7 linked regions of the Homo sapiens genome follow. The protein of the gene in region 2 purifies or fractionates together with the protein of the main gene of each other region. This does not show direct contact. Each region holds a gene or a part of one and is shown on either strand. Other genes may lie near its edges.

Region 1 (3,500 bases), on a different chromosome or scaffold from region 2:
AGCCCTATTTTAGTGGAAACATTTAAAAATAGCACTTGCTTAAAATGTTCTTTTATTCTGTAAGCATAATTCAAGGACCATGGCATTAGGGAGCTCCTATCAAATTAGTGTTTTTTAAAATGGCCAGAATTCTAGAATATTTGTTTATTCATTTGTTCAGCATGTCATTATTGAGAGCTGGTGTGCCAAGAAAATGAATGTGAGTTATTTTTAAAGTAGGGAGGCAAAATAAAAAGATTGTCTTAGGTCTTAGTCCATTTGTGCTGCTTTAAGAAAATACTATAAACTGGGTGGCTTATGAACAACAGAAATTTATTTCTCACAGCTCTGGAGGTGAGAAGTCCAAGATCCAGGCAGATTGAGCATCTGGTGAGGTCCCTCTTCTGGGTTCATAGATGATACCTTCTTGCGATGTACTCACATAGCAGCAGGGAGACAGCAGCTCTCTGGGGCTTCTTTGATGAGGTCACTGTAGGAGTCTATTCTTACGTTGCTATAAAGACATATCTGACACTGGGTAATTTATGAAGAAAAGAGGTTTAATTGGTTTACGGTCCTGCAAGCTCTACAGGAAGCATGGCGCTAGCATCAGCAAGGCCTCTGGGGAGGCCTCAGGAAGCTTCCAATCGTGGCAGAAGGCAAAGTGGGGAGCAGGCTTCTCACATGGTGGGAGCAGGAGCAAGAGTTGGGGAGAGATGCCACACAATTTTAAATAACAGATCTCATGAGAACTCACTCACTGTGGTCAGAATAGCACCAAGCCATGAGGGATTGATCTGCCCCCATGATCGAAATACCTTCCACCAGGCCGTACCTTCAACATTGGGGATCACATTTTAACATGAGACTTGGGCGGGGACAGATACCCAAACTGTATCAGTTACTAATCCCATTCATGAGGGCTCTGCCCTCATGATCTAATCACCTTCCAAAGGAACCACTTCCTAATACCATCATGTTGGGAATTAGGTTTTCAATGTAGGAATTTTGGGGTAACACAGACATTCAGTCCATAGTAACCTACATTTGGTAACATAGATGAATTTTTTAAACAATGCAAATCTCTGTCTTTCCATCTATCCATCCATTCATTCATTTATGTACCATTTTTTTCTTGGCAGGATTTGGCTCATTTGTGGAAAAGACTGTGATGCCTTACATTAGCACAACACCAGCTAAGCTCAGGAACCCTTGCACAAGTGAACAGAACTGCACCAGCCCATTTAGCTACAAAAATGTGCTCAGTCTTACTAATAAAGGAGAAGTATTTAATGAACTTGTTGGAAAACAGCGCATATCTGGAAATTTGGATTCTCCAGAAGGTGGTTTCGATGCCATCATGCAAGTTGCAGTTTGTGGAGTAAGCGCATTCATTTCCTATCAGGGGATATTGTTTCTATTATGTGTGTGAATTTTAAGTGTGATTTTACTATGATAATAGAAAAATTGACCTTAATTTTCATAGATTTGATTATCTTAGAGAAGTAATTTTAAGTAAACCCTTAAATTGCCTGTATACATAAAGTGCCTTTATAAAAGCATATTTAATCTTTATGCAAACCACACAGTTAGTTTATTCATGCGGGCTTTTAAAAGACAGAATGCTAACCATTTGAAACAGCGGGGCAACCTCTCTGTACTGTAGCTGGTGGTCTGGATTTTAGAAAAGCCCATGTGTCCTAACTTTCTGGCTTTGTACTAGAGATAGAATTGATGTTATTATCTGAGGCATCACCAGGAACCTTGAAATTGCTCAAAGGGAGAGTGTCTTGTATCATTTTCCTTTGGTCAGTTTTCTTCTCACTGTCTTTGAAAGACACATCTTTCTCCTGTGTCTTAGTAATTCAAAAAGAGAGAACTTTTTAAGCTCTAGTTTTTAACCTATATGAATAGATGTATTTTGAGAAGTGATACAATATTTGTAATTTTAATTGTAAGATTTTCAGTAGCAAGCCCATCCCTATTGGTTCAATAATTTGTATTTTATGATCCATGTAGCAGCTATGTATTTTGAGATGACACTTTAATGATGTGGCTGAGGCTGAAACTAGAAGACATTGTCATGTCAAGTTTGTCCTGCGTACCTACTCTTGTCTCATTTTTGTTCCCTCCAGTGCCCCCATTCTCTAGATGACCTTCTTTGATTTTAGAGGCCTCTTAGTGGTTATTTTTCAGTCAATTTTTGCTAAGGTGCTAATTGATGCCCAAAATAATAAGTGAAGGAATATGGATAGTAATTAAGAATTTTTCTATCACCACTGATGCTGGGCAATTTACTCAGCCTCTCCAGGGCTGTTTTCTTCTCTTTAAGAAGGGATCATGATAGTATCTACCTCATAGGGCTCTTGTGAAGTTAAAATGCATCAATCTCTATAAAGTACCAATGAGCATTCAGCAAATACTAATTCCTATATTGTTATTACTTTCGACTTTTCACTAGAGTGTTTGCAATTTAAGGTTAGTCCCTGCTGTTATAGCCGAAGCAAGTAGCATTCCAGGTAGTACCTAGCCTTACACCTCTTTTCTTACTAGCCATTGATGTGTGAGCCTGTTAGCAGCTCGTTGTGGGGAGGGCATTCTCTGGGCTGCCTCTAACTAGGCCTTAACCTGTGGTATTAAACAAGCCATAACACCCTTGATTGTGGCTGTTTTTCTGTGTTGGTCATGCTGATCCACTCCTCTAGATGCAAAAGAATCAGACATTCCACTTTTGAAAGATTGCCAGTATTAATAAATGTGATTCCCACCTTAAAGTATTTTACTGTCTTATGAAGATCTAAACAGACGTATTAAATAAATTAACGAAAGCAGGTAAATTCCTATAGTCCTATGATTTTATAATTATAAATTACCATAGTGACAAGAAGATTTTACAGTTACTTTAGATTCTTTATTGGAAAGGGCAAGGATAAAGTAAATGAGTGCATAAACAGTACTGATTGAGGAGTTAGAATGGGTGAAATTATCCTTAAACAAGATACTTATTTCTGTTATAAAAAAAGGAAGCCTCATATGGTGGGCTGATAAAGAAGGTGCATGGCATAGAACATAGAGCAGAGATGGGTGGATGGGGACAAGACAGCAGCAGTGGGGTAAAGTAAGGATAGGCTCAGACACTTTCATTTATTCAGCAAATGCTCATCAAGGGCTTACTGCTTGCCAAGCAGTGTGCTGGCTTGCTAGCTGCTGGAGATATGATGATAAGCAGAACTAAACCAAACCAAACAAAACAAAAAAACAGTTTTTAAAAAGAACTGAGAGATTGAGAGATACGGATGGTCAGGCAAGATATCGTTGTACATGGGATGGAAGAGCTTCATTCAGTGGGCTTTGTGTGTTTCTCAGCAAGATAATTACCATTGTATAAAGAGAAGACACAGAAAATACAGAATTAGGTTAAAAATACAATGGTGGCCTATATGAAAATTAAAGGATTTTTGTTGAATTACTGTGAATAGTGTTTTAAAATTGAAATCCTTTTCTTTTCAAGTCACTGATTG
Region 2 (3,500 bases):
GGAGTTCAAAGGTGCAGTGAGCTCGGATCACACCACTGCACTCCAGCCTGGGTGACAGAGCGAGACCGTGTATGATAAAACAAAAACAGAAAACATCCAGAGGTTTGTATAGAAGTAGTTATCTTGCAGGTGTTCAGAAGGACCTGACTGCCAAAATAAGGCAGGCCCTCATTATTTCAGGTGCAGTCATTTAAGTTTCTTATTGGCTATGGTTTTTTGAAGAAATAATTTTTATAGATTTATAGGATGGTGTTCACAAAGACTACTGTATTTGAATTTTTCTATATATTTTCAATTCTCATACATCCGTATTAGAAATTATGTATTGTATTTATGGTCAGATTTATTGGAGACTGCTGCAAAAAACAAATTACTGGTATGGTACACTCAACCAATCTCAAAACGAATCCAAGGGCACCAGAATATAAGTTGCACAAAGGCAGAAATCTTTGTCTTTTTTTTTTTTCTCATGTGTGCTAAACACCTGGAAGGGTACCTGCATTTAATGGGTGCACCATAAATAATGAATGAAGGCAGGCAGGTAGGCAGACAGGTGGTACAATCAGGATCCCCTTAATATGAATTGGGGGTAGTTTATGTAAAATTTTTCCTTTTTACCTACTTTCTGATCATTATATGAAGTAGATTGGGATCAGACTTACCAATATTAGCTGTGGCCGGGCGCAGTGGCTCATGCCTGTAATCCCAGCACTTTGGGAGGCCAATGCAGGTGGATCACCAGAGGTCAGGAGTTTGAGACCAGCCTGGCCAACATGGTGAAACCCCGTCTCTACTAAAAATACAAAAATTAGCTAGGCATGGTGGTGTGTGCCTGTTGCCCCAGCTGCTTGGGAGGCTCTGAGGCAGGAGAATTGCTTAAACCCGGGAGGCGGAGGTTGCAGTGAGTTGAGCTCGTGCCACTGCACTCAAGCCTGGGTGACAAGAGTGAGACGCTGACTCAAAAAAAAAAAAAAAAAAAAAAAGAATGTTAGCTGTTTGGCTTAATAGGGCAAGACTGCTCTTAGAAATTGAAAGGTTGGGGCTGGGTTTGGTGGCTCACGCCTGTAATCCCAGCACTTTGGGAGACCGAGGCGGGCAGATCACCTAAGGTCAGAGTTCGAGACCAGCCTGGCCAACATGGTGAAACCCTGTCTCTACCAAAAATACAAAATTAGCTGGGCGTGGTGGCGCATGCCTGTAATCTCAGCTACTCTAGAGGCTGAGGCAGGAGAACCGCTTGAACCAGGGAGGCGGAGGTTGCGGTGAGCCGAGATCGTGCCATTGTAATCCAACCTGGGCAACAGGAGCAAAACTCTGTCTCAAAAAAAAAGAAAAGAAAAAGAGAAATTGAAAGGTTGTTTGAAAAATAGGCTTAAGAGAGTTACTGCTTTTGGATGAGAAGATTTCAGTGGTTGATTTGACCATAACCATCTTGGTAGTATGAGCTCAGGAATGCGTTACTTATTAGTGATGTGGGAATTACATGGATTTGTCCCCAAAGCACAAGCTTTTAGTGGGCTGCTTCTATACTGGATGTGCTACCTTTTGGTGTCATTAATCCTTTCTCCACCACAGGCTTACTCATTTTTTAACAGGGAATATTTTTCACTGGGAATTGGAGTCTCTCGGCTCCATGTAAGAAATCAAGTTGGTAAAGGCTCTTGTCCCTAAGAGAGGTATAATACATACATTTTGTTGTCAGGATGATTTTGCTAAGTTTTGGAAGAGTAGGTTGGTTCCACTAACCTGCATTTAAGAAATGATTGATTAGGCTGGGTGCTGTGGCTCACACCTGTATTTCCAACACTTTGGGAGGCTGAGGCAGGAGGATAGCTTGAGCTCAGGAGTTCGAGACCAGCCTGGGCAACTTAGCGAGACCCCATCTCTACAAAAAAAAGCTTTTAAATAAAAAATTAGCTGGGTGCGGTGGTGTACACCTGTAGTCCCAGCTACTCAGGAGGCTGAGATGGGAGGATCACTTGAGCCCAGGAGTTTGAAGCTGCAGTGAGCTATGATTGTACCATCTCACTCCAGCCTGGATGACAGAGTGAGATTCTGTCTTAAACAAAAAACCCCAAAAGACCATCCAGAGTGCTTGTCTCGGTAGCATATATACTAAAATTGGAAGGATATGGAGAAGATTAGTATGGTCCCTGCGCAAGGATGACACGCAAATTTGTGAATTGTTTCATAATTACTATTTAAAAAAAAAAAACCTCTGTAGGTATTTCTCCAAAGAAGCTAAGCAGATGCCCAATAAACATATGGAAAGATGTTCAGCATCACTAATAATTAGGGAAATGCAAATCAAAACCACAGTGAGATGTTACTTTGCGACCATTTAGGATAGTTATAACAACAACAACAAACGACAAAAGCAAGTGATGAGGTTGTAGAGAAATTGGAACCTTGGTGCATTGCTGGTGGGAATGTGAAATGGTGCAGCCACAGTGAGAAACAATAGGGTGGTTTCTCAAAAAATTAAAAATGAAATTACCATATGATCTAGTGATCTCACTTCGAGTTATATCCAGGATAATTTAAATCAAAGATTCAAACAGGGCCAGGCAAGGTGGCTTATGCCCGTAAATCCCAGCACTTTAGGAGGCCAGATTACTTGGGCTCAGGAGTTCAAGACCAGCCTGGGCAACATGGTGAGATCCTGTCTCTACCAAGAAACCCCCCAAAATTAGCTGTACATGTTGGCGCATGCCTGTAGTACCAGCTGCTTGGGAGGCTGAGGTGAGAGGATCACTTGAACCCGGGAAGCGGAGGTTGCAGTGAGCTGATGATCATGCCACTGTACTCCAGCCTGGATGACAGAGCAAGACCCTGTCTCAAAACAAACAACAACAAAAAAGACTCAAACAGCTATTTGTACACCAGCATTCATAGTAGCATTATGCACGATAGCTGAAAGGTGGAAACAACTCACATGTTCATCAGTGGATAAATGGATAAACAAAATGTGGTATACACATAGAATGGAATATTATTCAGCCTTAAAAGGGAGGGAAATTCTAACATGCTACCACATGGATACGCCTTGAAAATAGTTTACTAAGTAAAATGAGTTGGACACAAAAGGACAAATAATGTGTGAGGTACCTATAGTAGACAAAATTAGTGGAATAGTGGTTACTGGGGCCTGGGGGACAGAGTAATGGGGAGTTATTGCTTAATGATCACAGAGTTTTAGTTTGGAAGGATGAAAAAGTTCCAGAGAGGAATAGTGTTGATGGTTGTATAACAGTGTGAATTAATTTAATGCCAATGAATTGTACACTTAAAAATGTTTGAAATGCATGAAAAGACAAATACTATGTGATTTCATTTATATGAATATGAGGCTATCTAAAGTCAAATTCATAGAAACAGAAATAATGGTGATTACCAGGGGCTGGGGAAGAGGGAAATAGGAAGGTGTTTAATGAGTATAAAACAACGCATTACAGTTTTGCAGAATGAAAAGGCTCTGGAGATCTGTTGCACAATGGTGT
Region 3 (2,829 bases), on a different chromosome or scaffold from region 2:
ACGCTGACCGCTCTCCTCTTCTCCCATGCTCCTCCCATGTCCCCAGCTGTGGTCCTGCACCGAGGCCAGCTCCTGGGGCTCCGAGGTAAGCCCAGCCACCTCGTGTCCCCTCACGGGAGCCTCTCCCACTCTCCACCTGTATGCGGGCTCAGCGCCTCTGGGTTCTCTCCCTGCAGCCAATAAGACATCCCCCACCTCTGGGGAGGGCGCCCGTCCCGGGGGCATCATCCACGTGTATGGCGATGACAGCAGTGACAGGGCGGCCAGCAGCTTCATCCCCTACTGCTCCATGGCCCAGGCCCAGCTATGCTTCCATGGGCACCGCGATGCCGTGAAGTTCTTTGTCTCGGTGCCAGGTGAGGCTGGGCCCCTCCTGCCATCCACATCCCCTGCATGCCAGTGGCCGCCGCCTCCCCCAGGAGGCCGCTGTCCTGAATCGCTTCTGCCATCCCAGGGAACGTGCTGGCCACCCTGAATGGGAGTGTGCTGGACAGCCCAGCCGAGGGCCCTGGGCCAGCTGCCCCTGCCTCGGAGGTCGAGGGCCAGAAGCTGCGGAACGTGCTGGTGCTGAGCGGCGGGGAGGGCTACATCGACTTCCGCATTGGTGAGCGGGGCCCAGGGACAGGGCTGAGGTTGGGCGCGGGGGGAGCCTGGCCGTCACTCTGCTGCTTTGCCCGCAGGAGACGGAGAGGACGACGAGACGGAGGAGGGCGCAGGGGACATGAGCCAGGTGAAGCCCGTGCTGTCCAAGGCAGAGCGCAGTCACATCATCGTGTGGCAGGTGTCCTACACCCCCGAGTGAAGCTGCTGCCCTGCCTGGCCCGACCTGTACATAGGACCCCCGACCACCTGACCCCCGCCCGGCCCGCGGGGTAGCCAGCCAGGCGCCGCCGCCCCTCTTCTAACCTCTCAACCTGCAGCTTTCACCTGAGTCTGGCCCCTCCAGCGGGCAGGGAGTGCGGGGATGCGGATCAGCTGGGAGGAGGAGGGGAGGGGAACTTCCACCCGAGGGGAAGATGCTCTCGGGACAGTTTCCCGGGCAGCTCCTGGCCAGCTTCCAGCCCAGAGTCCTCAAGTCCAGGGCACCTTGGGCCCAGCGCAGGCAGAATCCGAGGTGGTCCTGGCTCTACCCTGGGCCTCCTACTCCCCAGCACCCCTGGAGGAGGCAGGGGCTCCCCGCCGCCGAGGCTGCCTGCCCTGGGCCCACCTCTGCATGCTGCTCATGGGGCCACCCTGCCTCCTGGGCCCTCACTCTGCCTAGGGGAGCTGGGCCAGGCACTAGCCTTTGCCCAGGGAGGTGGGCCTCAGGCTGCCCAGGTGCCTGCACCCCAGCCGGCCTTCTCTGGGGCCTCCCCGTCGTCAAGCCTCTATCCTGTCTGTCCCCACCCCAGCTGTCCCCTGCCCAGGGAGCTGGCATAAAAGCACGAGGCCCGGCTCCCTGGGGCAGCTGCTTGAGAACAGAGACTGCTACCCCATCCTGCCCATGCAGGCAGGCTCTTGCCAGCCCCGTTCTGACCCGTGTCCCCCCAGGCTCTGCCTGGGCAGAAGACTCACCTTGGAGGAGTGGGCCCTGGAGTCCTGTCCCTCCCAGAAGCCCCCAGGGTGGGATTTCTCAGGCTGCCAGGGCAGGCCCAGGCCTCAGGAAGAAGGGGAGGCCCCTGGCCTCTCCGGGATCAGTCCTAGGACACAGGCTCAGCCTCAGGTTGATGGGGGATGATGTGCTCCCGGGGCCTGCCTCCTGCACGGGGCTCCACGGAGCCCAGCTCCCAGACACGCTACTAAGTGCCTAGGGTTGCCCGCTGTGGCCTGCTTCCAGGGAGCAACAGAGAGGCCACCAAGCAGAGGCCCGTGGGGCTGAGGATGGAGCCGCCCCCAGCCGACTCCAAGCCCGCAGAGGGCAGACGCCACCCTGGACTGCTCTCCCTGCCCAGCTGGGCCTCTCTGGCCTATTCCTACCTTCCAGGCCCACTGCACTCCTGTCTGGGAGGCCCTTATGAGGGCAGCCCAGCCCCCGCACCCACCCCCAACCAGAGAAGCACAGATCTTGGGGAGCTGCCCCACAAGCCCCGCTGGCCACCGAGGGCTGCAGCCGCTGCGCTGCCGGCTTCTCCCCACCACCCTGCCACCTCCACTGTGATGTATGTCCGCTCCCTCGTCTGTTCCCCCAGGATCTCGAAGTGACTCCGGGCTGAGCAGTGGGGCGGCTGGGGGAGGGGTGACGATTCTCCTCAGGCTTTGGCCCTGCAAGCAAACCCACATATCTGCTCTGTATGTAATAAATGTCTTAACGTCGTAGCTGCCTGTTCCTGGGCCCAAATCGAAACGAAAACGAGGACTTTATTATAAAAAAACGTTGGACCACGTTGGGCTGGGCACCAGGACAGTGTCCTGGCACGTTTCCAGGCGAGCCGCGCAGGCTCCTGGAGCAGCTCCTCGGGCAGGAAACCCTGTACGCCAGGGATTGGAGAGGCCTGCGCCACCCTCCATGCAACGTCCAGACAGGTGGATGTTCAGCAGCCCGTCCAAAGGGATGCTCCAAGCGCTGTGGGGTGGGGCCAGAAGCCCGCCCACCTGGGCCCTGGAGGAGGCTGGAGTGTGAGAGCCTCTGTGACGCGCATCTGCCGGGCTACTCATACAGCCAGTGCCCAGCGCTGTCCTCCCAGCAGAGGAGCTCGTCTGCGCGGAACCAGAGAGCGATCTCGCGGCGGGCACTCTCCACCGAGTCGCTGCCGTGAATCAGGTTCCTGCGCGGAAGAGGCGCGTGTGAGCGTGGGAAAGAGACCTCCGGCACGGGTACCACGCAGGCTGAACAGGGGGAGGCCGGACGGG
Region 4 (3,500 bases), on a different chromosome or scaffold from region 2:
AAACAGCCTGTAAATATCATAACAGGAATGTCAACCTTGGAGAACCTACGTTATTCGTGTCATTTTAAGAAATCTGTAAACTGGAGGCAGTATTAATTGGTCAAATCAATATGTATAGAATCTCTAGAATGTTCATAGGCAGTCATTCCATTCCCTGAACTTTAGCCAAAACAATGAAGAGTAAGGTGCGAAGATGTTTGTTGCAGCACTTTTTAAAAAATACTGAATAACTGTATACAACAAAGCTGATAGTCTAAAATTTATAAATATTTACTAACTTTGTATGTATGTAAAATTAGCCTTATGTTTTTAGAGTTACAGCTAGTGACCTGAAAATAAAATTAGGTTTATATAAATAAAATTATAAGTTGTAAATTTAAAGCATGAGTAATGTTGCTTCCTTGCTTTAACTGCGTGGTCAACTATTAGACAAAATAGAAAAATACTATGAGAAAACTAACTAACATAACTTGAAAGAGTCATGAAATCAATCTTATCAAAGTTGGGTGAAATGTGTCAGATAAACACTCAACTCAAAAATAATCAACTTCTATATATATTCTTTACTTCTATATATATTCTTCTACAAAGTCCCTTGAATAGTTTCTGTAGCACATATATACAAATAGAATTAACAGAGCCATGAAGGTTTATTTTGCAAAAACATAAAATTCCAGGATGCACCAGGAATCCTGATTTTTTTTTCCTGTAAAACTAATGGTAAGTTGTACATCCAGATGCCTTCACAAAGAAAATTATTTTTAGAAGAAAAGTACTTAGAGAAAATATAATTTTCATAGTGCATGCAGACTTTTTTCTTTATTATCACTATTTCTACAACTAAAATATATAGTGTCAGCCTAATTCATAGTTTGTTACTCCTTTACACAAAATGATAAAATGAAAATTTGTCACAGACCCTGCAAATGCTCAGTACTCTTCATGTAGTGCTAATGATCTGCAATAATTTGCACTGTACTTACAAGAGACTCTATTTGAAAGTTCTTTTCCGGAGCCCAATTGTTGTTTCTAAATAATGAAGTGAATTATCTGCTAAACACAAGAATTATATTCAGAATGATAAGATTATCACCTGAAAATCATACTAAATGCATTCTGCTGGTTTCCTGCTCACTATAGGACATAGGTGCATTGAGTATAATAATGCAGAATTACAAATACTATTTATCTTGCTTTGTGGTGGTGATGTTGTTTTGGTTTGTGGTTTTTGATCAAGCAGATATAGTTGAATATAATTTTCTTAAATGAACCTATGATACAAATAATAAGTAATATATCTTTCCAGTGCATTTAAATTTCTTTCATTATTCAACAGGCACGTTCATAAACCCAAGTCCACATAATTAAATATGATTAGTAAAGTGTACCTCTTTACTGATTCTCAATTTATAATCATACCCCGAAGGAGGTTTAAAGGGAAAGTTGCTCAGAAAAAAATGAAAACTATCTTATAATATTTTAATAGTATAAATCATAATATCTACTAAATGCAACAGTGAAACATTTGCTAAAATTTAAAGTTGCATAACTTACATGTATACTAAGAAAAAGTAACTAAATAAATTCACACGTTTAAATCTTTGAAGAAATTTCATGTTGTGTCTAACAGTTGCTAGAGCCACTAAGAAAAATGTAATTGAACTTAAAGCACAAAAAGGTTCACCTAACATAGAAAAAAAATAAATTCTTATGGTTAATTTTGGCTATGTTGATATGAAAAGCAAATAAAATAAGCATTGCTGGCAGATACAGAGTGTGTTCAGCACAAAGATAACATAACAGTAGGCTAATTCGTCTTTAAACCCTAGAAGGTTGAATTGTTTTCTTGTGAGAAGCTCCTGGAAGCAAATGTTCTCTCTATTATGAACTGTATAATATGGGTGAAGCCTCCCTTCCCTAATGAACACATCAGTGATCTCTGATATCAGTACAGTTGTGGCTGCAATTCAAAGCAGAGATGGAAGAACGGATGTGACGGTATCTTCAGGAAGTAACTCCCATCTCTAGAGTCCTTGAGTACTTACAACAAAATAAGCTTTTCACACACTCATACTAATGATGAAAAGAAATTGAAAAAAATAAGAAGTCAAGATACAAAACTGCCTCCGTTATGAGGAGCAAGATGTTGGCTGGCAATACATATGGAAAGGAGCATTCTTTTTAAAAGTCCCTTTGTGTAAGCATGATGGAACAAAATAATGACAGAATCCCTAAAATGGCAAATAGTCTGGTGATAAATTCTTCCAAGATAAATTGCTTGCATAATAAAAATCATCCACAAAAGTATTCTAAATATTCTTTCAACCTATTTAAATGATTATATCATAACTATCAATTGGCTATGGAAGCACAATGCTTGCCAAGCATCACTTTTAAACCTTAGTAAAATTCTAGCTAATTAATATAAAATCACCATGAATTTTTAAAAATCATATTTAACCTCCAAATTAAATGTGTCTATGTGTTGTTCACATGAAATTCAATAAGACTAAGACCATACTGTCACTACAGAAAAATCGAGCTACATTTGTTTTTAAGTAACTATCCCTATTTTCCCTAGTTTGGGTGCTTATATACCACAGCATAAACAAAAACATGAGCTTGTTGTGTTTACTAAATTCTGTAGCTTCCACCCAGTTATTTCAAACAGTACCTATACTATTGGACTGCTTTTTACTCTCTGAAGGTTTCTATTGTCATCCTCTGCTGAGGAAAAAGGTAAATACAGCAACTCTGCCCTACTTACGCCAGGGGTAGAGAAAACTACCTGCCAGACACAGCAATAGCACTCTTGGGCTCTGGTGGGGAAAAGAGGCACTAGCTAGCTCTCTGAAAGTCTCAGTGGGAGCACAGCCTTGTCCCTTGAGGTAAGTAAAGTAGAAAGCTATCAGTCTTAAAAATTATCGTGAGCAGGGAAACTAGAAACAGTGTTAAAGTCACGACATGCCCTGGAGTAAGAACATAGTAAACTTCTCTGGCCATGTAAAGGTTTATTAAAAGTGTCAAGGAAAAGAATCCTCTGGATATCTTCATTTGTAATAACTCCCCACTCTTCATAGAAATTACTCTTAAGTGTCATTCACTCAGTTGTTAAATGATTAATGAACTTAAGTTTGACATTTTAGGAATTGTAGTAAAGCACCTCCCTGAAATAATCCTTCAGGAAAGGGCCTAAAGTAAAGGCTAGATCATGACCGCAAAAATTTCTAGTATCTGTTGAAAATTACTCACACATTCCTTTCCCTGTAGAAAAAAACTACCGCTAGAATTTTGTCTTTCCTATTTTTGTTCTTTCATTACATTATCTTGACGTTATAGATTTTAGAAAATCTTATATTGGTTTTGAGATCATACAAAAAAATGAAACAATAAGATGTAAATATATTCTGAATGTAAACAAGTACATGATTATTTTTGCAGTTTGTTTTAGAACACCAGTGTATATTGTAATTATGTTTTAAAATCTATTTTTTCAGATA
Region 5 (3,400 bases), on a different chromosome or scaffold from region 2:
AAAAAAATGTATTTCTAAGTCACAAATCTAAAGAGATTGTACCAGTTTATAATCATACCACCAGTATATAAGAGTACCTATTCTACAATAGTTTCTTTCTTCATAACTAATTTATACCCAAAAAAGATCTGATTTTGTTTTGTTTTATAAGAAAGACTAAAATACTTGTCTGCTATTTGGCAATTTATAAATCCCCACTGTCCAGATTGAAAGTGCTATCAACACTCCTAATTCATTAGTAGTTCGAGGGTTTCTCTAAAAGAGACAGACTTGGGACAAAGTTGGAAATCAACCTGCATTTTCATACAGCCGCTTAAGACATTTAAGTTTGACTCCATCTACTTAGAACAATTCAAAATGTGAATCTTGCAACTCCAGTGGTCGTTATGATCATTTAGTATTGCCCACAGGGGAAGCAGAATTACAACCCAGGATGGAACAACCTTTTGGTCATTTCTGTTCCCATTAGTATTGTTAGTTTTGTTATGCTGAGCACACTACAAAGTTGCATCTCTTGTATAAGTACAACACAATTTATTAAATATTGTATACATAGAACCAAGAATCGATAGGATGCAGGGCTGCTTGATTGTACCAGAAACAAAACATGATGAGAATACATTGAAACACTGGATTTACTTAAGAAAAACCTAAGTTTTTCAAATCTAATTTATTTAAGAAAACGTATTTTCTTAATAAGTGTAACACAGTTCTTACAAGGTATGGTAATAAGCAGAAAGTAGAATTTTGAATATTAATGTCAAAGTATGTTTTCTGCCATTTTGATGGAGTTGATACTTTTTCTTGTAAGTTCTTCCTGTAGTGAAAGAGAGAAAGTGAGGTGTCATTGCCGAAAGGACACACTAATAACCTCTTGGTAGTTTATTGCAGGTAAAATCATTTTTTAATTAAGCTGACAACGTGGTAAAACTGCAGCATTAAATTGTAATTATGTTTAAATGGAAGTCTTTCTGTAGAGTGTTAAAGGATGATAAACGTTTGAGGTTCAAATAACTCGACTGTCTTATCAAACACCATGTCTATAAGTAATAAGTTTCTGGGAGAATTGTGAATTGGATTTTGTTTTATTTCAAGTGGATGCTTTTGTGCCCATATTTAAGCTGCCGTTGCTTACAAGACCTGTACTGCCCTTCCCCACCTGCCTTTTCCATCATACCCTATGCTCACAGACAAATCTCAGCAAGAGGCAGGAGTTGCTTCACTAATCAAAACCTTACATTAAAATAGTTTTACCTAGATCTAAGTTCTAGTCCCAAATCAAAAAGCAATCTGTGGAGTTTTCAGTATAATTTCGTACTGACAGCTTTCCAAATAGTAACGTAAACGGTTCACGTACTTGGTGAACTGAAGAAATAGAATGGAGGCCATTAGCACTGTAAGTTGTTAGTTTGCCTGTTTACCAAAAATATGTTGAGTTTCGGGGCACATACCTTAAAATTGCCCTGTTTCACTGTGTAAGAGGAACTGGCTTGACTACTTCACCCTTGGTGAAAACAAACAGGCCCTAAAAGAGGCAGCAACAGCTGAAGTGGATATCACAGAAATAAACAGACAGCAGAAGCTCTTCAGACACCCCCGAAACCTGCCAAAACTCACAGGTAATACAAGTGAAACGATAGCATAAGAAGAAAATAAACATGAGAATCTTCAAACTACAAGCATTGAACGGTATCCTCCATCCAAGAAGAGAACCCACTTCATACAAGGAAAAGGCAAAAGGAAAAGGTCAAGACTGTGACCTTTATAACACTGTGACCCCAGCTGTGGGCCAGGTGGAGTTGTCTGTGGTGACACCAAGTACAGGCCTGACACCCTGGTTTGACAGAAGGCTCTTCAAGATCCCTGGTCTTCACACTGTAGCAGCCAAAAGGTAGGTTTACAATATACACTGTCCCCAACTTGCCATGGATCAATTATAATTTTTCAACTTGACTATGGAGGAAAACCATCGCAATTTCAGCTTCCAGTCATGGGTCACATAACGATGGGGATACATTCTGAGAAATGTGGTGTTAGGTGGTTTCATCACTGTGTGAACCTCAGTGTTCAGACAAATCTAGATGGTATAGCCTACTACACACATGGGCTCTATGGTATAGTCTATTGCTCTTAGGCTACAAACCTGTATAGCATGTACTATAGTACTGAATACTGTAGGCAGTTATAACACAAAGGTAAGTATTTGTGCATCTAAACATAGGAAAGGTACAGTAAAAATACAGCACAAAAGATAAAAAAATGGTATGCCATTTTTATGGCATAGCTCCTGCTTTCGAGTGAGTCAGTGAGTGAGTGGTGAGTAAATGGGAAGGGCTGGGACATTACTGTGCACTGCTGTAGATACTAAACACTGTAAACATAGGCTACGCTAAATTTATTTTTTTAAAATTGCACTACAACATTATGTTGTCAGTAAGTAATAGGAATCTTTCAGCTCCCTAATAATCTTAACGGGACCACCATCATATATGTGGTCCATCATTGACCAAAAACATCATTATGTAGTACATGACTATACCTTGAATTTCGATCTTTTCCTAGGCTAGTGATATGCAGTACATGAGATAATCAATGCTTCCTTACAAAATGGGCTTATGTTAGAAGACTTTTGCCCAGCTGCAGGCTATTGTAAGTGTTCTGAGCACATATGAGATAACCTGGGCCAAGCTATGATGTTCGATACGTTAGGTGTATTAAATGCACTTTTGACTGCCATCTCAGTGGATGACAGCCTTCTCACTGACAGCAGAGAGATCTTCCTCACTGTGCCAGTGGGCAGGAGAAAGAGCATGCTGCGACTGGCCAGTGACATGCAGAGGATCCAGATTGCACAACCGGATCCAGAGGCCTTGGGAAGCATTAGGGAGCTCTCCAGCTGTCTCACTCAAATCTGTAGCAGCATATGGACCCACAAATGGAGGCCAAAGTGGGCCCTCAATTGGACACTTTGGCAACCCTGAAGAGACTTCTTCCCTTCAGACTTACTGTTTTAGTATGTTCCAGAGAAGGGAGTGGCATTCTTCTTGGGGAATTCAGGAAGAGGGAGACACGCTGTTACTCTATCCATTAAATAAAGCTTTGATGTTCACAGCCCCCCGCCACCACTCAGAAAAAAAAAATAATTGCCTTGCTCTCTAAAACTGACTTCTGCCTTTTATTGGACAGGAACAAGCTGAAAGCTGGATACCTAATGTCAGTGGAGTCTTCTGAGTGTTTCCTGGAAGAAGTCGGGTCCCAGGCTCTAGTTGCTGGTTCTTACATGCCACCATCCACAGTCCTTCAGCAGATTGATTCAGTGGCTAATGCTGATATCATAAATGTAAGTAAATGAAAACTTAACGATTTAACAACAGAGAACTTAACCTTAATGATCCAATTT
Region 6 (3,500 bases), on a different chromosome or scaffold from region 2:
CGAGATGTGTATAAGAAATTTGATTTGGGTCAAGACGTTATAGATTTTACTGGTCATGCTCTTGCACTTTACAGAACTGATGAGTAAGTATTTTGGTTTTTAGATTTGTATTTTTCTTGAAATTCTCACTAAATTTCCCAAGTCTTCCAAGTGGAAATTCTAACAAAACAAATACTTAGCCATATTGCACTATGAATGAAGAGGTTCTAGTTGAAATTAGTGTTGGGACCTTTTAAGTGATTTAAATATAAAGGTAGTGGGCCAGGTGTGGTGGCTCACGCCTGTGATCCCAGCACTTTGGGAGGCCAAGTTGGGTGGATCATTTGAGGTCAGGAGTTCAAGACCAGCCTGGCCAACATGGTGAAACCCCCTCTCTACTAAAAATGCAAAAATTAGTTGGGCGGTAGTGGTGCGTCCCTGTAATTCCAGCCACTTGGGAGGCTGAGGCAGAAGAATCACTTGAGCCTGGGAGGTGGAAGTTGTGGGGAGCCGAGATTGCACCACTGCACTCCAGTCTGGGCGACAGAGTGAGACCCTGTCTCAAAAAACAAAAAAACAAAAAAGAAGATAGCGGATTGAAATCGCTTCAAAAAAAATTATAAATTGAACACCATGAATGAAAACTAAAGCCCTTTCCTAATACTCATTTCCTTTCTTCCAGTTACTTAGATCAACCGTGTTATGAAACCATTAATAGAATTAAACTTTACAGTGAATCTTTGGCAAGATATGGCAAAAGCCCATACCTTTATCCACTCTATGGCCTTGGAGAACTGCCCCAAGGATTTGCAAGGTAAGAGCCTGTGTTTAAAACCTCAGTGATCCAAAACCTCATCTTCAACATAATGTGTATATGAGATATAGTTTAAATAATGAGATGAGATCAGTCTATGAGTAATAAGATGCTTTTTATTTTTATTGAAATAAAATTAACATATAATGATATGCATGGATCTTCAGTTAAAAAAAATCCAGTTTTATACAACTGTAGCTGATGTGCTCTTGTAAGTGCCAACTCCTGGCTGGAGGCCAGCCAATACAAAACCAGCGCACTTAACAAAAATACAACCAAGGACCTTCACAGAATCTACTTCACACCCCTGTTACCTCCACCAGAGTAAGTGCTGGTATCCACGCCTGAGAGACCTGGAGACAGATCACATCACAGGACTCTTTGCAGACACTCTCCAGTACCAGCTTAGAGCCTGATTATCTCCACTGGGCGGCTAGATCAAGAAGAGAAATAACAATCACTGCAGTTTGGCTCTCAGGAAGCCCCATCCCTAGGGGAAAGGGGAGAGCACCACATCAAGGGAGCATCCCTGTGGGACAAAAGAATCTGAACAGCAGCCCTTGAGTTCCAGATCTTCCCTCTGACATAGTCTATCCAGATGAGAAGGAACTGGAAAAACAACTGGGGTAATATGACAAAACAGGGTTCTTTGACACTCTGAAAAGGTCACACTAGCTTACCAGCAATGGATCTAAACCAAGACAAAAATCTCTGAATTGCCAGAAAAAGAATTCACAAGGTCATTATTACGCCAATCAAGGAGGCACGAGAGAAAGGTGAAGTCCAACTTAGCAAAACAAAAAAAGTGATACAGGATATGAATGGAAAAATTTCCAGGAAAATAGCATAAATAAATAATCACAACTTCTGAAAATCAAGGGACACACTTAGAGACATGCAAAATGCACTGGAAAGTCTCAGCAATAGAATTGAATAAGTAGAAGAAAGAAATTTCAGAGTTCGAAGACAAGGCTTTTGAATTAGCCCAATCTGACAAAGACAAAAAAGAATTTAAAAAAATGAACGCAGCCTCCAATAAGTTTGTTAAACAACCAAGCCTAAGAATAATTGGTGTTCCCAAGGAAGAAGAAGAATCTAAAAGTTTGGAAAACAAATTTGAGGGATTAATTGAGGAAAACTTCCCCGGCCTTGCTAGAGATCTAGACATCCAAATACAAGAAGCTTAAAGAACACCTGGGAAATTCATCACAAAAAGATCATCACCTAGGCACATAGTCATCAGGTTAACTAAAGTCAAGATGAAGGAAAGAATCTTAAGAGCTGTGAGTCAAAAGCCTCAGGTAACCTATAAAGGAAAACCTATCAGATTAACAGATTTCTCAGCAGAAACTCTAAAAGCTAGAAGGGATTGGGATCCTATCTTGAGCCTCCTTAAGTTATCAGCCAGTAATTTTGTATCCAGTGAAACAGAGCTTCATAAATGAAGGAAAGTAGTCTTTTTCACACAAACAAGTGCTGAGAGAATTTGCCACTACCAAGCCAGCACTACAAGAACTGCTAAAAGGAGCTCCAAATCTTGAAACAAATTCTCAAAATACCAAAATTGTATCTCCTTAAAGCATAAATCACACAGGACCTATAAAACAATAACACAATGAAGAAAAAAAACAAGGTGTTCAGGCAAACAAATAGCACGATGAATAGAATAGTACCTCAAATCTCAATACTAATGTTGAATGTAAATGGCCTACATGCTCCACTTTAAAGATACAGAATAGCAGAATGGATAAGAACTCATCAACCAAGTATCTGCTGTCTTCAAGAGATTCACCAGACACAAAAGGACTCAAATTTAAGGTAAAGGGGTGGAAAAATATATTTCATGTAAATGGACACCAGAAGCGAGCAGAAGTAGCTATTCTTATATTTTTTATTTTATAACTATATATATTTTAAAAAAAATCAGTTTGATAAATTTATAGACCTATCCCTGTCCTGGGTTTAACTAAAACCTGAGTGAAGGTATAGAACATTTTCCTCACCCCATAAAGTTCCCTTGTGTCACCTCATAATGAATACTGCCCCCCATCCCCAGCAACCACCTCTGTGATTTCTGTCACTATAGATTACTTTTGCTTGTTTTCAAAGTTCATGTAAAAGGAATAATACAATATGTTCTCATTTGTGTCTTTTTCATTTTTTGAGATTCATCCATATTGATGCATGTGTCAGTAATTCTTTTTTTTGGAGATGGAGTTCCACTCTTGTTGCCCAGGCTGGAGTGCTGTGGTGCAGTCTCAGCTCACTGCAACCTCCACCCCCTGGGTTCCAGTGATTCTCCTGCCTCAGCCTCCCAAGGAGCTGGGATTACAGGCATGCACCACCACATCCGGCTAATTTTTTATATTTAGTAGTGATGGGGTTTCACCATGTTGGTCAGTCTGGTCTTGAACTCCTGACCTCAAGTGATCCACCCACCTTGGCCTCCCAATGTGCTGGGATTACAGGTGTGAGCCATTGTGCCTGGCCAATTCTTTTTTTTTAATTGTTGAGTAGAATTCCTTTGTATGAATTATATGAGCATATAATTCTCCTTTTGGTGGACATCTAGTTAGTTTTCAGTTTTTGGCTATTATGAATGAAGGCACTGTGAAATTTTTATGTAAAACACTTTCTGTGGGGATATAGGTTTTCATTTCCTTTTGGGTAAATACTGGGAGTGAAATTGCTGACTAATGTGGCAGAT
Region 7 (3,500 bases), on a different chromosome or scaffold from region 2:
CTCTATGAAAAATACAAAAATTAGCCGGGTGTGGTGGCGCATGCCTGTGTTCCCAGCTACTCGAGGGGCTGAGGTGGGAGGATCATTTGAGCCTAGGAGGTCAAGGCTGCAGTGAGCTGTGATGGCACCACTGCACTCCAGCCTGGGTGACAGAGCGACCTCATCTCAAAAAAAAAAAAAAAAAAAAAAAACCATAAAATATTACCTTATTTTTGGTAAAACTCAAACAGGCAGAGCTCCTCCTAGGGCTTAACATATGCTTCATTTATACACACTGGATATTTTATACAGGTTGAGTATCCCTTATTTGAAATAGGACCAGAAGTGTTTCTGATTTACATTTTTTTTTATTTTGGAATATGTCCTTATGCCCAGTTAAGCATCCCTAATCTGAAGAGCCAAAATCCAAAATCTCCAGTGAGCATTTCTGTAGAGCATGGCCTCTGAACATCATGCAGGCATGCAAAACGTTTGGGATTTTGAAGCATTTCAGATTTCTGCATTGGGGATGCTCATCCTTTACTATACTGCTATTATTTATATCATAGTCAGACATTACCTTTGACTAAAATATTTTTGCACATCTTTTTTTTTTTTAGACAGGGTCTTGTTCTGTTGCACAGGCTGGAGTGCAGTGACATGATATCAGGGCTCACTGCAGCCTCCACCTCCCAGGCTCATGTGATCCTCCCACCTCAGCCTCCCAAGGAACTGGGACTACAGCCACACAACACCACACCCAGCTAAGTTATTTTTTTTTTTAGACACGGGGTCTCACTATGTTGCCCAGGCTGGTCTCAAACTCCTGGGTTCAAGTGATCCTCCCACCTCAGCATCCCAAAGTGCTGGGATTACAGGCATGAGCCACCGCATCCAGCCACACATCTCTTTTTGAACATGGTCATTCTGAAACCTATTCAGAAGTGGTTAGGTTATGACCATGCCCATTTTCCAACCTAGGGAACTGCTGGCAGCTTGACAGGGAAGTCACGGTGACTCCAGAGGTTACTGCATCTTTCATTTACGTTACATCCTGTAGTGCTTGGCTTTTTAAAGCAAAAGTTGTGAGCTCCTCTGCATGTGCCTCCTTCCCCAAAAGGCTGCCACACTACCGTATAAGAAACCGTATAAGTTGCTACTGCAGGGGGACCTTGAGAGAAGAGTTGTTACAGAAAAGGAAAATAAATGAAAATTTTTAATTCAGAAAAAGAAAGTCTCCCTCATTTTGGATGCCATACGAAACAATCTTGAACTTCAAGGTGGGCAGAAAGCTTAGTTCCTTTAATTACACATACTTCTTCCACCCTAAGGCAACATATCAAAGACCCAGCAATAACGTTATCAACATTTTGATTTCTTTTAAATGTCCTCATTGCACAGGAGCTTATTGTGAACCTCAGCACCACTGACACTTCAGGTCAGATGCTTTGCTGTGGGGCGCTGTCCTGTGCACTGCAGGATGTTCAGCAGCATTGCTGGCTTCAATACATATGCTGCCAGAACTCCAGCATACCACACTCCAACTTGTGACAACCAAGTGTCTTCAGGCCAGGTGTGGTGGCTCACACCTGTAATCCCAGTCATTTGGGAGGCTGAGGCGGGAATATTGCTTGAGCCCAGGAGTTCAAGACCAGCCTGGGCAATACAGCAAAACCCCAGTCTCTACCAAAAAAAGGAAAACAAAATGTCTTCAGACATTGCCAATATCCCCTGGGAGCAAAATCATGGCTAGTTGAGGACCGCCAATCTAGCTAGTTAGCAGTGTATCCCTACATGAATGTACACACGTGGTTCAATAAAAACCAAAAAGGTAGTTTCAATTGTTAAAACTAGCTGAATTTGCCTTATAAAGGGTCCTAACATAACTCTATTCAAATTAAGATGTGTTTAAAGGCTGATTCCAACCAGAAAGTCAAATAAAGAAGGCATTTCCATAATTTAATATTTATTCTTTTCAAAGCCTCTGCTCAAGCATGTTTAGTTTATTTTCCAATCTAACCAAATCCAGTTTGGGAAACAAAGCAGATCTCGTTGCATTTCCACTGTTTCAACACCACCTCGGAGGGCAGTATAGATTGTGTCTCGACACATTAGACAAGGCCACTAGAACAAAACCTGGCATTTGTGTGGCGCTTTTCAGCTTATGAAGCATGTTCACATACCTTATCTATTTTAGTTATAATGACATTCTTTGTGGTGAAATCTTGTACTGTCCTGCCATCTCACTGTCCAGCCTGGGACATGAATCATCCCTATGTCCAGCCTATCTACACTGTAGATGCTACCCACCCACAAGTCACTTAGTAGCAGGCTTGGTTATCAGATCAAAAAAACAGTATATATAGGGTTTGATACTAACCATGGTTTGAAGCATCCACAGGGGGTCTTGGAATGCATCCCCTGAAAATAAGGGGGAGACTACTGTGTTCTCACCATAAGGAAACTGAGGCTCAGAGAGATAACATGGTGGCCCAAAGTCATCTGTCATTGGCAGATCAAGGAGTAGGGCTCGTGTCTTTTTACTCCTTATTTAGGCTCATTCTACACCAATAGAAAACATCACACTTTGAAATTTTAAAGTACAGTCCTTTGAAAGTGTTAATTACTTCATTGTGAAATTAATTCTCTGACTTACTCATCTGTAACTACATAACATACTGAAATTGTAAACAAATTTTTTAAAAAGGATTGTGTTTTGGTCAGAAAACTAACTGGGTGATTCATTCAAGCACAAAATAATATTGAATATTGAATACAAGAATGCCATTTTGTATAGTCATTTGCTAATTATAATGACATTTTAACCAATAAAGTGTACTTTTCCAAAAATTGGGTATGCCCCGTCAACTTCCAACCATGAGATTTCTTTTTTGAAAAGCATTATAGGCCGAGTGCAGTGGCTCATGCCTGTAATCCCAGCACTTTGGGAGGCGAAGGCAGGAGGATCATGAGGTTAGGGTTTTGAGACCAGCCTGGCCAACACAGTGAAACCCCATCTCTACTAAAAATACAAAGAATTAGCCAGGTGTGGTGGTGGGCGCCTGTAATCCCAGCTACTCAGGAGGCTGAGGCAGGAGAATCGCTTGAACCCGGGAGGCAGAGGTTGCAGTGAGCCAAGATGGCACCACTGCACTCCAGCCTGGGAGACTGCGAGGCTCCATCTCAAGAAAAAGAAAAGAAAAGCATTATAACTGATGCTCTTTTGAAATCAAGATTATTAACCTCAAAACTTTCAGGAAAACAAAAAAGACATCTATTCAGATAAGTATCATCCTTACTTGCCTGAAATTTTTTTCTTTTTTCTTTTCAGATGAGTAGTTTACAGAGAGAGACATACAATCAAATGTCACAAATCTTCCCACTCTACAGACACTATAGATATGTGAACCCCACCCTGGTGTTTCCAGGATCAGAGAATTTTGAACAGTCAGAGGGGAAAAAAAAAAAACTTCAAAAAATAAACTAAAAGTAGAGAAATACTAGCTGGGTCTCCACATTTG

The links.
Region 1: the proteins of RAB10 (region 2) and ITGB1 purify together in Homo sapiens (affinity purification with western blotting, with the first as the bait; one study listed by BioGRID). This does not show direct contact.
Region 3: the proteins of RAB10 (region 2) and MAPK8IP3 purify together in Homo sapiens (co-immunoprecipitation; one study listed by IntAct). This does not show direct contact.
Region 4: the proteins of RAB10 (region 2) and HCN1 purify together in Homo sapiens (co-immunoprecipitation; one large-scale study listed by IntAct). This does not show direct contact.
Region 5: the proteins of RAB10 (region 2) and UQCRC2 fractionate together in Homo sapiens (co-fractionation; one large-scale study listed by BioGRID). This does not show direct contact.
Region 6: the proteins of RAB10 (region 2) and GDI2 purify together in Homo sapiens (co-immunoprecipitation; 3 studies listed by BioGRID and IntAct, with this or other methods). This does not show direct contact.
Region 7: the proteins of RAB10 (region 2) and LGALS3 purify together in Homo sapiens (affinity purification with western blotting, with the first as the bait; one study listed by BioGRID). This does not show direct contact.

The regions. Positions count from the first base shown.
Region 1 is NC_000010.11:32,923,731-32,927,230, reverse strand, and holds part of ITGB1 (integrin beta-1 isoform 1A precursor), read left to right. Parts: intron 1-1,121; coding exon 1,122-1,360; intron 1,361-3,490; coding exon 3,491-3,500.
Region 2 is NC_000002.12:26,040,584-26,044,083, forward strand, and holds part of RAB10 (ras-related protein Rab-10), read left to right. Parts: intron 1-3,500. UniProt on the Homo sapiens protein: The small GTPases Rab are key regulators of intracellular membrane trafficking, from the formation of transport vesicles to their fusion with membranes.
Region 3 is NC_000016.10:1,768,023-1,770,851, forward strand, and holds the end of MAPK8IP3 (C-Jun-amino-terminal kinase-interacting protein 3), read left to right. Parts: intron 1-46; coding exon 47-85; intron 86-176; coding exon 177-356; intron 357-454; coding exon 455-604; intron 605-680; coding exon 681-802; 3' UTR 803-2,329; downstream 2,330-2,829. Other genes in the region: NME3 (nucleoside diphosphate kinase 3), read right to left, coding at 2,627-2,744.
Region 4 is NC_000005.10:45,689,881-45,693,380, forward strand, and holds part of HCN1 (potassium/sodium hyperpolarization-activated cyclic nucleotide-gated channel 1), read right to left. Parts: intron 1-3,500. UniProt on the Homo sapiens protein: Hyperpolarization-activated ion channel that are permeable to sodium and potassium ions. Displays lower selectivity for K(+) over Na(+) ions.
Region 5 is NC_000016.10:21,977,361-21,980,760, forward strand, and holds part of UQCRC2 (cytochrome b-c1 complex subunit 2, mitochondrial precursor), read left to right. Parts: intron 1-3,186; coding exon 3,187-3,340; intron 3,341-3,400. UniProt on the Homo sapiens protein: Component of the ubiquinol-cytochrome c oxidoreductase, a multisubunit transmembrane complex that is part of the mitochondrial electron transport chain which drives oxidative phosphorylation.
Region 6 is NC_000010.11:5,782,435-5,785,934, reverse strand, and holds part of GDI2 (rab GDP dissociation inhibitor beta), read left to right. Parts: coding exon 1-83; intron 84-661; coding exon 662-793; intron 794-3,500. UniProt on the Homo sapiens protein: GDP-dissociation inhibitor preventing the GDP to GTP exchange of most Rab proteins. By keeping these small GTPases in their inactive GDP-bound form regulates intracellular membrane trafficking.
Region 7 is NC_000014.9:55,132,252-55,135,751, reverse strand, and holds part of LGALS3 (galectin-3), read right to left. Parts: intron 2,401-3,500; exon of another isoform or gene 2,398-2,400; coding exon of another isoform or gene 2,360-2,397; intron 1-2,359. UniProt on the Homo sapiens protein: Galactose-specific lectin which binds IgE. May mediate with the alpha-3, beta-1 integrin the stimulation by CSPG4 of endothelial cells migration.